Regions from separate parts of the Homo sapiens genome. Here region 1 is linked to region 2. The links come from fine-mapping of genetic effects on gene expression. Tissue or cell type: whole blood. Region 2 holds a variant in brackets; the other region holds the start of a gene. All regions are shown on one strand. Distances are between the middles of the regions.

Region 1 (5,000 bases), 430 kb after region 2:
CACAGAAAAGTGGCTTCAGAGAGGGAATCATTTAATGCCCCTTACCTTCATTAGCCCCATTCCCCAAGTCTTACCACATAAACGTAAATTCCAGGTAAAACTGTGCTTACCAGGTAAACACACTTCCAGACAAGTTCCTTGTTGCCCTAGATTGCCATCCCTAAACTTCTCCTACATGGCAATTCTGCCACAGCATAATTTTCAGGGCAGCTCCACCCACAGTTAAAGTTATGATTTAGGGTTCATTACTACACATACCTTGAAACTTTTAAGCAGACACATTAAAGTAATGCAGCTCAAGGAATGTTAACAACTTTTTCCACTTTTGCCCCAGCCAGTTTCTACTCTAATCCAAAACGGCTTCTTTATCACCACCCACTTTACTCAAATTACGCTTACAGAATTCATTATCCTCCCGGGTAGAATCACCGAAAATAATGTGAGCATTTATATAGAAAGTGTAGTTCAGATAAAGCAATATATTAATAGGCCAAATTAGAAAAGGATAGCACGCTGCTAGTTTTCTGTATGCACTCTTGCCCGTGTGAAATTAAACTTTTTTGCATCCATGCGGGGAGCGGTGGCTCAGGCCTGTAATCTCAGCGCTTCCTAAGGCCGAGGCGGGCGGATCACTTAGGGTCAGGAATTCGAGACCAGCCTGGCCAAATTGTGAAGCCCCTTCTCTACTAAAAATACGAAAATTAGCCGGGAGTGGTAGTGGGCACCTGTAATCCCAGCTACTCGGGAAGCTGAGGCAGGAGAATCTCTTGAACCAGGAGGCGGAGGTTGCAGTGAGCCAAGACCACGCCACTGTACTCCAGCCTGGGTGATAGAGCGAGATTCTGTCTAAAAAAAAAAAAAATTGTATCCAAAGTTGGAGTTTGCCTTTATTATTGCAAATGAGATAATAACCTTTCAAGTAGGAAAACAACAAAAAGGAAAACTATATAATGAAATTTCTTTTACTCCCAGAACCAAAATAACGAGACTTCCAGATAGAAATTTGCATGGAGTCAATCAGAATTACATATTATTTTCATTTCCGAACAGAATTACTCCATCAAGTTTTCTGATATCTTCCTAATGTTTCTCAGTAAAACTTTAGCAAAGTAATAAAAATTCACCTAAGAATGATCAAAATTGCGTTGAGTCCCAAATAAATAATTTTTTTTATTTTAAGGGAAAAATTCCGCACTTTGCTTTCTTTTTTTTTTTTTTAGGTAGGCAGGGACAATCAGGAAGCAGCCCCGGATTTTCAGAAACGATCTTTAGCATCACCAAGACATAGACTAAAGAAACATGTAATGCACAACTTAGGCTGCTCCTTCATCCAAGGCAATTCAAATTTCCACGGATACCAAGTCTTCAATGGCCGGTGTCAACCATTCAATAGAAGCATACCAGAAAATGTTGCGATTGCCTTCTTCACCACAAGAGTCTAAGTGACACAAATTTGGGCAGAAGTAATTATTTGGCCAAGCCGGGAGGCAGGAAGCTTAAATACCGCCTCTGTAGGAAGTGCGGGGGATCCGAAGCAAACACCCCAAAGTTTGTTTGTGAGTGGAGGCGCGGAGGCGCCCGGAGCCACGCCGAAGCTCACCTGGTCAGCGCACAGAGCCGGGTAGGAGTCGGGTCTAGCCCTAGTTTGCTCCTGAGCGCTTCGTTCCTCTCAGGCTACTGCGTTTAAATCAATACTGGGTGGCAAACGATACCCATTCTTTGGGCTCTGAAGTTTGGAATTCATGGGTTCTGCGGCACAAGAAAGTTTCTTCACAGGTTATTTCCCTGTCCGAGGCTGTCGCTTAGCTCATCTCCTCCCGGTGCGGCCCTGGGGTGTCCACCAAGCCGCCGGGCAGATCGCTGCCCCGTGCTGCGGCATCTTGATGCCCAGGACCCCGAGGCTGTGGGGCAGCCCCTCCTACCTGGGACAAGCGGCCAGAACTCCTTTTCCCACAGGGAAGAACACTCCAAGCCCCCGGAAGAGTGCGCATCCTAAGGAGATGTCTCCCAACGCCTAGACAAAGACAGCGCTGGGAAAAGTTGGACCAACTGGCACCCCCGCAAGGCGAACAGAGCAGTCCCCTCGGCCTTCGTGGCCGAGCCGGCTACGCGCTCTCGGAGTCGCGGCCAACTTTTCCCGCGAGCTTCTGAGCAACTTGCCGCAAGTTGGGGCGAGGGGGCAGAGCAGGGGTCAAGGGCGCGCGGAGGGACTGATCTCGCTCCTGTCGGTTTCCTCGTACCTCCCCGCGTACCTGCTGATGTATCCGTCCCCGTCGCCGTCGCACGTCTGGAAGAGGCGCCGCATCCTCTCCTCCTCGCCGGTGCTGGACGTGTCGCTGCTGCTGCTGCTGCTGCCGCTGCCGCCGCCGCCGCCGCCGCTGCTGGAGCTCCCCGCAGCCGCTGCCGCCGCGGCCGCCATCATGCGCCCGCTCCCTACTTGGGAGGAGGAGTACGCGCGACCGCAGCTGGAATCCGCGCGGCGCGCAAGCTGCCTGCAGCCCCGAACTTGCCTGACAACGGAGCATGCCCAGTGGCCGCCGGGGCGCTCCGGGCGAGGGATTCCACCTCTCCGGGTTTTGCCCGGACTGGGAAGATGGGCGCTCTGGAATCGCCCGAGGAGGCACCTCAGGGAAGAGGGAGGAGGGGAAGGTGGCTGGAAGAGTCAGGGAGCTAAGGGTGGCAACGGGAACACAAGAGGAGGCAGAATACACTGGAAGCCCCCGGGAAGGGTGTCAGCATTGTGCATCCGGCAACGACGCGGGCCCGGGACACTTGGGGACGCTTCAGGCAGAGGGCAGGTGTACTCCCGGCAGACCTTCTCCGACCGCCCGGAGTCATGGCTTCCTTTTCCAGAGAAGCTATATAAACACTCTCCTTCTGCAAACTCAAAACGGTGCTTGTAATCCCACTCTCCAGGATTGTTCCGGGTTCTGTACCCATAGCCACCAATGAGAACCGGAATGACTGGCCTTTTTATGAAATTTTGACACCTGTCAAGAAACCTGGCCCTCGCAGCCCTCATCTTGGCTCCCACTCTGTACTGGGAAGAGTCTGCACGCTGTGTGGCATTGTGTACGTTGGGTCAATTTCTGGAAACGGCTCACTCTACTGGCCAGGCATCACTAGAATTTCCCCCAACAGCTTTAATAATGCCAAGAGCGAACATAATAGATGGTCTCATTTGATCCACACTACAGACCTGGAAGATGCCTCTTTTATTATCAATCCTACGACTTAGGAAGTATTAATAGATAAGTACCTCATAGAGTTATCTTACATATAAAAGGAGAGCAGACATAATGCAGTTAGGACAATGTCTGACACCTAGTAAGTGCTCAACAACTGTTAGCTCTCATTGTTCCCAATTTACAGGTAAGAAAACTGAGGTACCAAGACCTGCTCAAGGTTCCAGGTTTAGTAAGTGTTAGGGCAGAGGCAAGCCCGGGCAGCCTAACTCCAGAGCAGGAGCCTTTAAACACTGCACTATTCCCCCATAGCCAAAGGGAAACCACAGTGAAGCAATTTGTGGTTTCGTGAATGACTCATTATTCTGTCCTGGATTTTCTGCCAGAGAGGCGTGTGAAGTTCTCTGGTGGTTTTAAAATATGTCCACAGATTCTTTGGTGCACCCCTCATCAAGAGGTGGAGTCTGTTGCTTCCCCTAAACCTGGATTGGACTTGTGACTGCCTTGACTTCTGAGACTAGGTTAGAAAAGGCAATGCAGATTGCACTTGGCTCTCTCCCTTGGGACACTTACCTTTGAAGCCTTGAGCTGCCTGAAAAGAAGTTTGGCTACCCTGAAGCTGGAGAAACCATGCAGAAAGACCATGTAAAGAAAAAAGGAGATGACCAAAGAGCTACAGCTGTTCTAGCCCTGGATCTTAGAATCTTCCCAGACTAGGTGCCAGACATGAGTGAGAGATGATGCTAGCTCTAGATGCTGCAACTGCATTGGAGACCCTGAGCAAAACTGGCTAACCAACCCCCAGAGCTGTGAAGATAATAATTAAAAATTGTTGTTTTAAGCCATTAAGTTTTGAGGTGATTTGTTATGCAGCAATATATAACTGGAACAAGTCCATATGTCTTGGGAATGTCTGCTAGGTCAGAAGGAAGGAATCTCTGCTCTCTTTCTCCTCCTCTCCACCCCATCTACCTATTCCTACTTTACTTCTTTATTATTCTCTAAGTTCCCAGTATTTCAGGGCACTAAAATCATAGATTCATGAGTTAATGAGTTAATGGGTTATCATGGGAGTGGGACTAGTGACTTTATAAGAAGAGAAGGAGAGACCTGAGTTAGCAGGCTCAGCCCCCTTGCCATGTGATGCCCTGCACTGTTTTGGGACTCTGCACAGAGTCCCCACCAGCAGGGTGGCCCATTGACCTTGGACTTTTCATTCTCCAGAACTGTAAGAAATAAATTCATTTCTTTATAAATCACCCTAGTTTCAGGTAGTCTGTTCTAAGCAACAGAAAATTGACAAGACCAGAAATTAGTACCGGGAGTGGGGTGTTAACGAAAACGAATACCTGAAAATGGAGAAGCAGCTTTGAAACTGGATAATGAGCAGAGGCTACAAGAATGAAGCAGCAGTCTAGAAAAAGCCTAGGTTCTAGTGAGGGCTGAGAAGACAGGAAGAACAGGGAAAGTTTGGAACTCCTTAGAAATTGGTTAAATGGTCATAATCAGAATGCTGATGGAACTATGGACAGTAAAGGCCATTCTGACAAGGTCTCAGATGGAACTGAGGAACAAGGTACAAGAAAATGGAGTAAAGACCATCCTTGTTATAAATTGGCAAAGAACTTAGCTGAACTGTTCTATGCCTGAGGGCTTTCTGGAAGGCTGAACTTGAGAGAGAGAAACTGGGGTATCTGGCCAAAGAAATATCTAAGCAGTAAAGCATTCAGGCTGCAGCATGGCTACTTTTAACCACTTACATCAAGCTGTGAGAGGGGGAAAAAAACTTTAAAGGTGGAATTTACAATCATAAGA
Region 2 (5,000 bases):
TCTCCCAAGGGCCTGCTGCTGGCTGCTGGGCAAGGGTTAAGTCATCCATTAATTCTCCCAGCTTGGAATGCTGGATGATCTCAGTTGTCAAGGGGGAATCAATCACTTTCTGTGGCTGCATTATTCCTCCTCTCCAGAACAGGAGCCTGTCTGTGTTCTCTGAGAGCGACTGTGGGGGAAGGCTAATGACAAAAACCCTCGCCACACATGTGTGTCTTGCTCTGGCTTCTTGAGGAGCTAGTCTAGGATGTGTGGGTTTCTCCTTTCCGTGATGCTCTGCTGGAGCTCCCGTCACGCTGGCTTTCCTCTGCATCTGTTCATTGCCAGCAGCTCTTCCAGCACAAAGCATACACAGCAGGCCTGTAGCCTGGTGGGAATGCGGGGCTGGCTGGTTCGGGACGGTTCGGGCCGACCCACTCTCCACCTACCCTGTCCACTATAGGAGAAGCTGTTCAAACCAGCTATCGACGTCAAATATCCTCTCTTCTATCCCTCTCCACCATGCCCCACCTCTGTCCTCAAGACAGTCCCCCAGCCTGCTCATTAGAAGAAAAATTCATTTTTCATAGCCTCCTCAGCTTGCCTTGGTGGAAGGCTAGAAGGACATTTCATTTCTTTTGCCTTGAAAATCCGTGATGACATTTTCCTGAAGTTTTCATCAACATCTTACCTGGCCCTAGCTGAGATCTCATTTCCATCAAGGAGCAGCTCTTTTTGTTTGTTTGTTTGTTTGTTTGTTTGAGACAGAGTCTCACTCTGTTGCCCACACTGGAGTGCAATAGCATGATTTGGCTCACCACAGCCTCCGCCTCCTGGGTTCAAGCAATTCTCCTGCCTCAGCCTCCTGAGTAGCTGGGACTACAGGCATGTACCACCATGCCTGGCTAAATTTTGTATTTTTAATAGCAACAGGATTTCACTATGTTGTCCAGGGTGGTCTCAAACTCCTGACCTCATGATCTGCCCGCCTCAGCCTCCCAAAGTGCTGGGATTACAGGTGTGAGTCACTGCGCCCGGCCTAGCAGCTCATTTTTAGAAGGAAAGTGCCCTGGGGGTGGGCATCTGTTTTGCTGAGCATTTGAAATTTATCTGAATGAGTGGGGTCAGTCCAATGTCCTTTCCAGTGAGAGTCCTAGAATGGAGAACTTTACCATCCTATGCATTTTGCAATGCTGGCATTTTAATTGCTTAGTTTTACAACAAACATACAGTTCTTTTGAAATCAAGAAGTTAGATCTCACTAGAAAAAAAACCATAAAAAGCATTCCATGTCTATACCTTGTTCTCATAGAACCTAAAAGGTAAGTGATGAGGACATTTGAGCAGGAGGACTGATCATAATGCTGTCATGTCAAGGATGTGTCGGGGCTGGTCTCTAGAGCTCACTAACACCAGTAAGCGTTTGTCTCAAGGACTTTGGATAGACTCTCCTGACACACAGATGGAAAAGCACCTCTCCTCAGTAAAGATGACTGTTTCAGCCAGATCTAGTCTGACTCTCATTCCCTGAAGCTTACTGATGCCTGTTCTAACTAGGTGGCTGTTTCAAAAAATTCACCCTTTCAATGGACATGATTTCACTCTCCTCAACCATTTTTTCTGCCCCAATGAAACTTTACCTTAATCCAGACTAGTTCAAAGAGTGAGAGCTAGGCATCTCTTGAGCTCTGCTGCTGTCCAGTCCAACTTGGGGATTACACCCCAGAGTGAGTGGCCACACAGGCAGCACCCTGGCTACCTGGAGGTACCTAGAGGCTCACGGCAAGGCTGCAACCACCATTCTCACAGCTCTCCAGGGTCCCCACCTGGTGCTGAGACAAGGGACTCAATTTCAGTCTCTGAGAGTACAGACTTGCTGTGGCCGATCCTGTCTTGGCCACAGTTCCTTTGTGGATTGAGATCGATGACTACGCTGCACAGAAGGAGCTGAACTGTGAGGCCTGCCACAGAGGGTGGGCTTGACCAAGGATTCCTATTTCCACTTCCTAACATTTTAGTCCTTGTGCCTCTTTGTCATGATATGTTGATAAAGCCATCCAGGCAATCAACCTAGTCACTCTGTCCATAAGACTATTATACTTTCTGATGAGGCCATGGCTATATTTTTCAAAAATGAAGTGGCACCGACCCTGGGCACCTGCCAACAGTCAACTGAGGGTTGGCTATCACTTTTATTCTCCTTGCTGGTTAACTACCCCTCTGCTGCTCCTCTCTAAAACCATTAACCCTCCTGTCGTTAGGAGCTGCCTATGGGCTGCCAGAAATGCCGCTGGAGGCACAATACTCAGCGTTTCTTTCCTGAACCCTTGAGGGGCAGTTGATGGACACTCTGATTAGACCTCTTGAAGCTGGGTGGTTACAGCGGGGGGAAAGGAGATTTGCTGGGCCACATAAAGCTCCAACTCAGAAAGATCCTTTTCTTTATTTTCATAAACTTGACAAGGGGGAATGTCTGAGCCAGAATGGCAAGATTTACAAACAAAATTACTATAATTATCATAATTATGAAAGGGGTCTGGTGCTTTGGGACTTTATTCTAAACCCACGTTTAACATAAAGCAGTCTAATTGCATCAGGTTCTAAGAATGTGGAGTGACAAATGAATGCCTCGTGTGTGGTTCTTCCATCCTCGGAGCTGCTCTGATTTGGGCGGGAGGGTAAAAGTGATTTTTTAAGGAGAATTGGGTGACATTGGAGCTAAAGACCTCTGTACTTTGATGGGAAGATCCATTTGAGACTGAAATTAATTTAAGAACCATTCTTTGGTGAGGTTATCCTTGGAAACAATGACTCTGTGTTTTGAATTTATCTCAATCTGCAGAAAAACAGGATCCCAAATTAAATTTCTCTAAGAAAACAGTCTCAAAATCAAGGCTAACCTGTAAGTTCAAGTACTTCTAACAAATATTCAAAAGCTAAATAGATGGTGATAAAATTGTTCTCCCTCCTGACTGGTTCTAAATTTGTCTCTGATTCAGAATAAAACCACAACATTCTTTTTGGGGGTAGGGAGGTTTGAGCAAATGATCC[G/A]TAGCACAAACCTCATAAGCTACTGAAACAGCACACATTTCCTGTCAAGCAAACTCTTATGTTCACTAATAAAACAACACAGCATCACTGACAACATGAGAACTACATTTCTATACTAAATAAACACACAAATTATAGATTATACACATCTGGAAGAGTCATTAAGAAGAGCATCTGCTTTCTGTGTTTACACAGTAGAATATGGTTTTATGAAAAAAATTATAATCTGTGCTTCACTGAATGAGACAATTGTTGCTGAAGTAAAGAAGAATCAAGTCCCTTTTGTTTGTGGGCACCTGGCTGAGTGCATTACTGGGCATGTTCCCTCTCCTGGGACACCTGGGCCAGTAGAGGTAAATGGAAGCGCTAAGGTAGATGGCGGGTCCCACCAGGGGAGAAAGAGAGAGGGGAACATTAAGTTGCTTTCCAGCACCAAGAAAGCATCAGTATTTCTCCTCTGGCTCTCAACAGTCAATCTATCTTTATGCAGTTCTGGTCACTTAGTCTGCAAGTAGACACTGTTTTGTTATGTCATGAGATCCAATGTGGGAAGAACAATATGCTCGATGCTAAGATCCCGGGTTCCCATCCAGGTTTCCCTCTTATCACCAGGCAGGTCACTGACATTATCTCTGAGCCAAGGTTTCCTAACCTGTGAAAATGGAGTAAGTTACCCTTCCAAGTCTTTCACGATTTGGCAATTAAGTAAGAATCTCTAACAAAGTGTCTTCTAAACTGAGGACTGGTAAATAAAGGGAAGGCATTCGTGTTTTTAGGGCTTTGGTGGCAAGAAATGAGAAGGTAAGTAGAAAGGGTTTTGTTCTGACTCTCCACTCCCATCCAAAGAATGAAATGACTTCAGCAAATTATGCTCTGCAAGGTCTTCGCCGCTCTCTTCCTAGCTTCCTTTTTCAAGCACCCACTTTAATTTCCTAGATTCACAGACAGTGAACTTGACCTCAGGTTCATGACTGAGTGCCTGTAAGCATGTGCTGTGAATGTGGCATCATTCCATGAGGCAAAAGAGATGAGAGGAGAGGCTCTTGCCTGAGAAGAGCTTATAGACGATGGAGGCACAAGAAGACAGGAGAGTGATGTCTGGAACTAGGATGAGCTGGGCTGGGCCTTGGGACCAGAGGGACCATTTGGAGCAAACGGCTCTTGGCTACCCTAAGTGCTTCCTGGAAATGAAGACTTATAAAGAAATGGAGAACAGAACAATGCAGAGAAAATGGATCTGACAGAAAGGTAGGTTTGCATTCCATCTCTACCACTTTCCACAGCAAATCTCTCCAATCTCGACTGCAGTTTCCACATTGGCAAAGTGAGAGGGCCACTTTCTAGCTCTTCTGTTCTGATCTTCTGACTCCTTTTTGGATGGAGCAGGCTGCATGCCAGAAGCCATGTCTGCCTTTTCCCAAGCCACACAGTCCCCAAGAGCTGGGTCACTGCACACCAAGTCCAGTGAACAGATGCCATGTGGACACACGCCCACCCCAGAGCAGAAGGCTGAGCATTACCTGGTGTGGCTGTTGGAGGAAAGGCTCTCCCAGGGCTGCACGCTGCAGCCGGCCACGGCAAAGGCTCCCCCACAGCTGCCGTCCAGCTTCATGAGCAGGGCCTTGGCAGCGTTCTCAGCTGTCTTCCGGCAGTCATGAGCTCGCTTGAGCATCTGAGTGATGTTTTCATCCCCCGACTGGTCTCCTATGTGGCAGAGAAGCCAACGGATTAATCAACATAGGCCTGGACAAGGCACGCCTGGGAGGGACTATGCATAATTAACTCTGTTACTTAGGGCAGAGGTGGCACTGTGGAAGGGAATTGGCAGTGCCCAGCCGAAGAGAAGATCTGTGTTCTGGGCCTGGCACTATCACTTAGACGCTACATGTGGGAAGGTATTTCTCTGCTCTTTCTCTGGGCTCCACTGGCCTCAGGGACAAGTGTAGGAGTTAACCAATGGGATCACCACA

What was found. PIP is the estimated chance that this variant, and not a neighbour inherited with it, causes the effect.
Region 1: MCC starts here. The variant in region 2 is fine-mapped to the expression of MCC in whole blood (TOPMed, PIP above 0.99). The same link has a PIP of 0.9 or more in blood mononuclear cells.

The regions. Positions count from the first base shown.
Region 1 is chr5:113,485,993-113,490,992 of GRCh38, forward strand. MCC (MCC regulator of Wnt signaling pathway) reads right to left here and starts at 2,461. Exons shown (of 19, transcript NM_001085377.2): 1 at 2,253-2,461. The coding sequence starts at 2,422. RefSeq lists an enhancer at 2,360-2,654.
Region 2 is chr5:113,059,434-113,064,433 of GRCh38, forward strand. It overlaps MCC (MCC regulator of Wnt signaling pathway), which reads right to left. Exons shown (of 19, transcript NM_001085377.2): 14 at 4,551-4,734. Among named protein-coding and RNA genes, the nearest start is that of DCP2, 85 kb to the left of the region's middle. The variant G/A (reference allele first, on the strand shown) is at 3,031.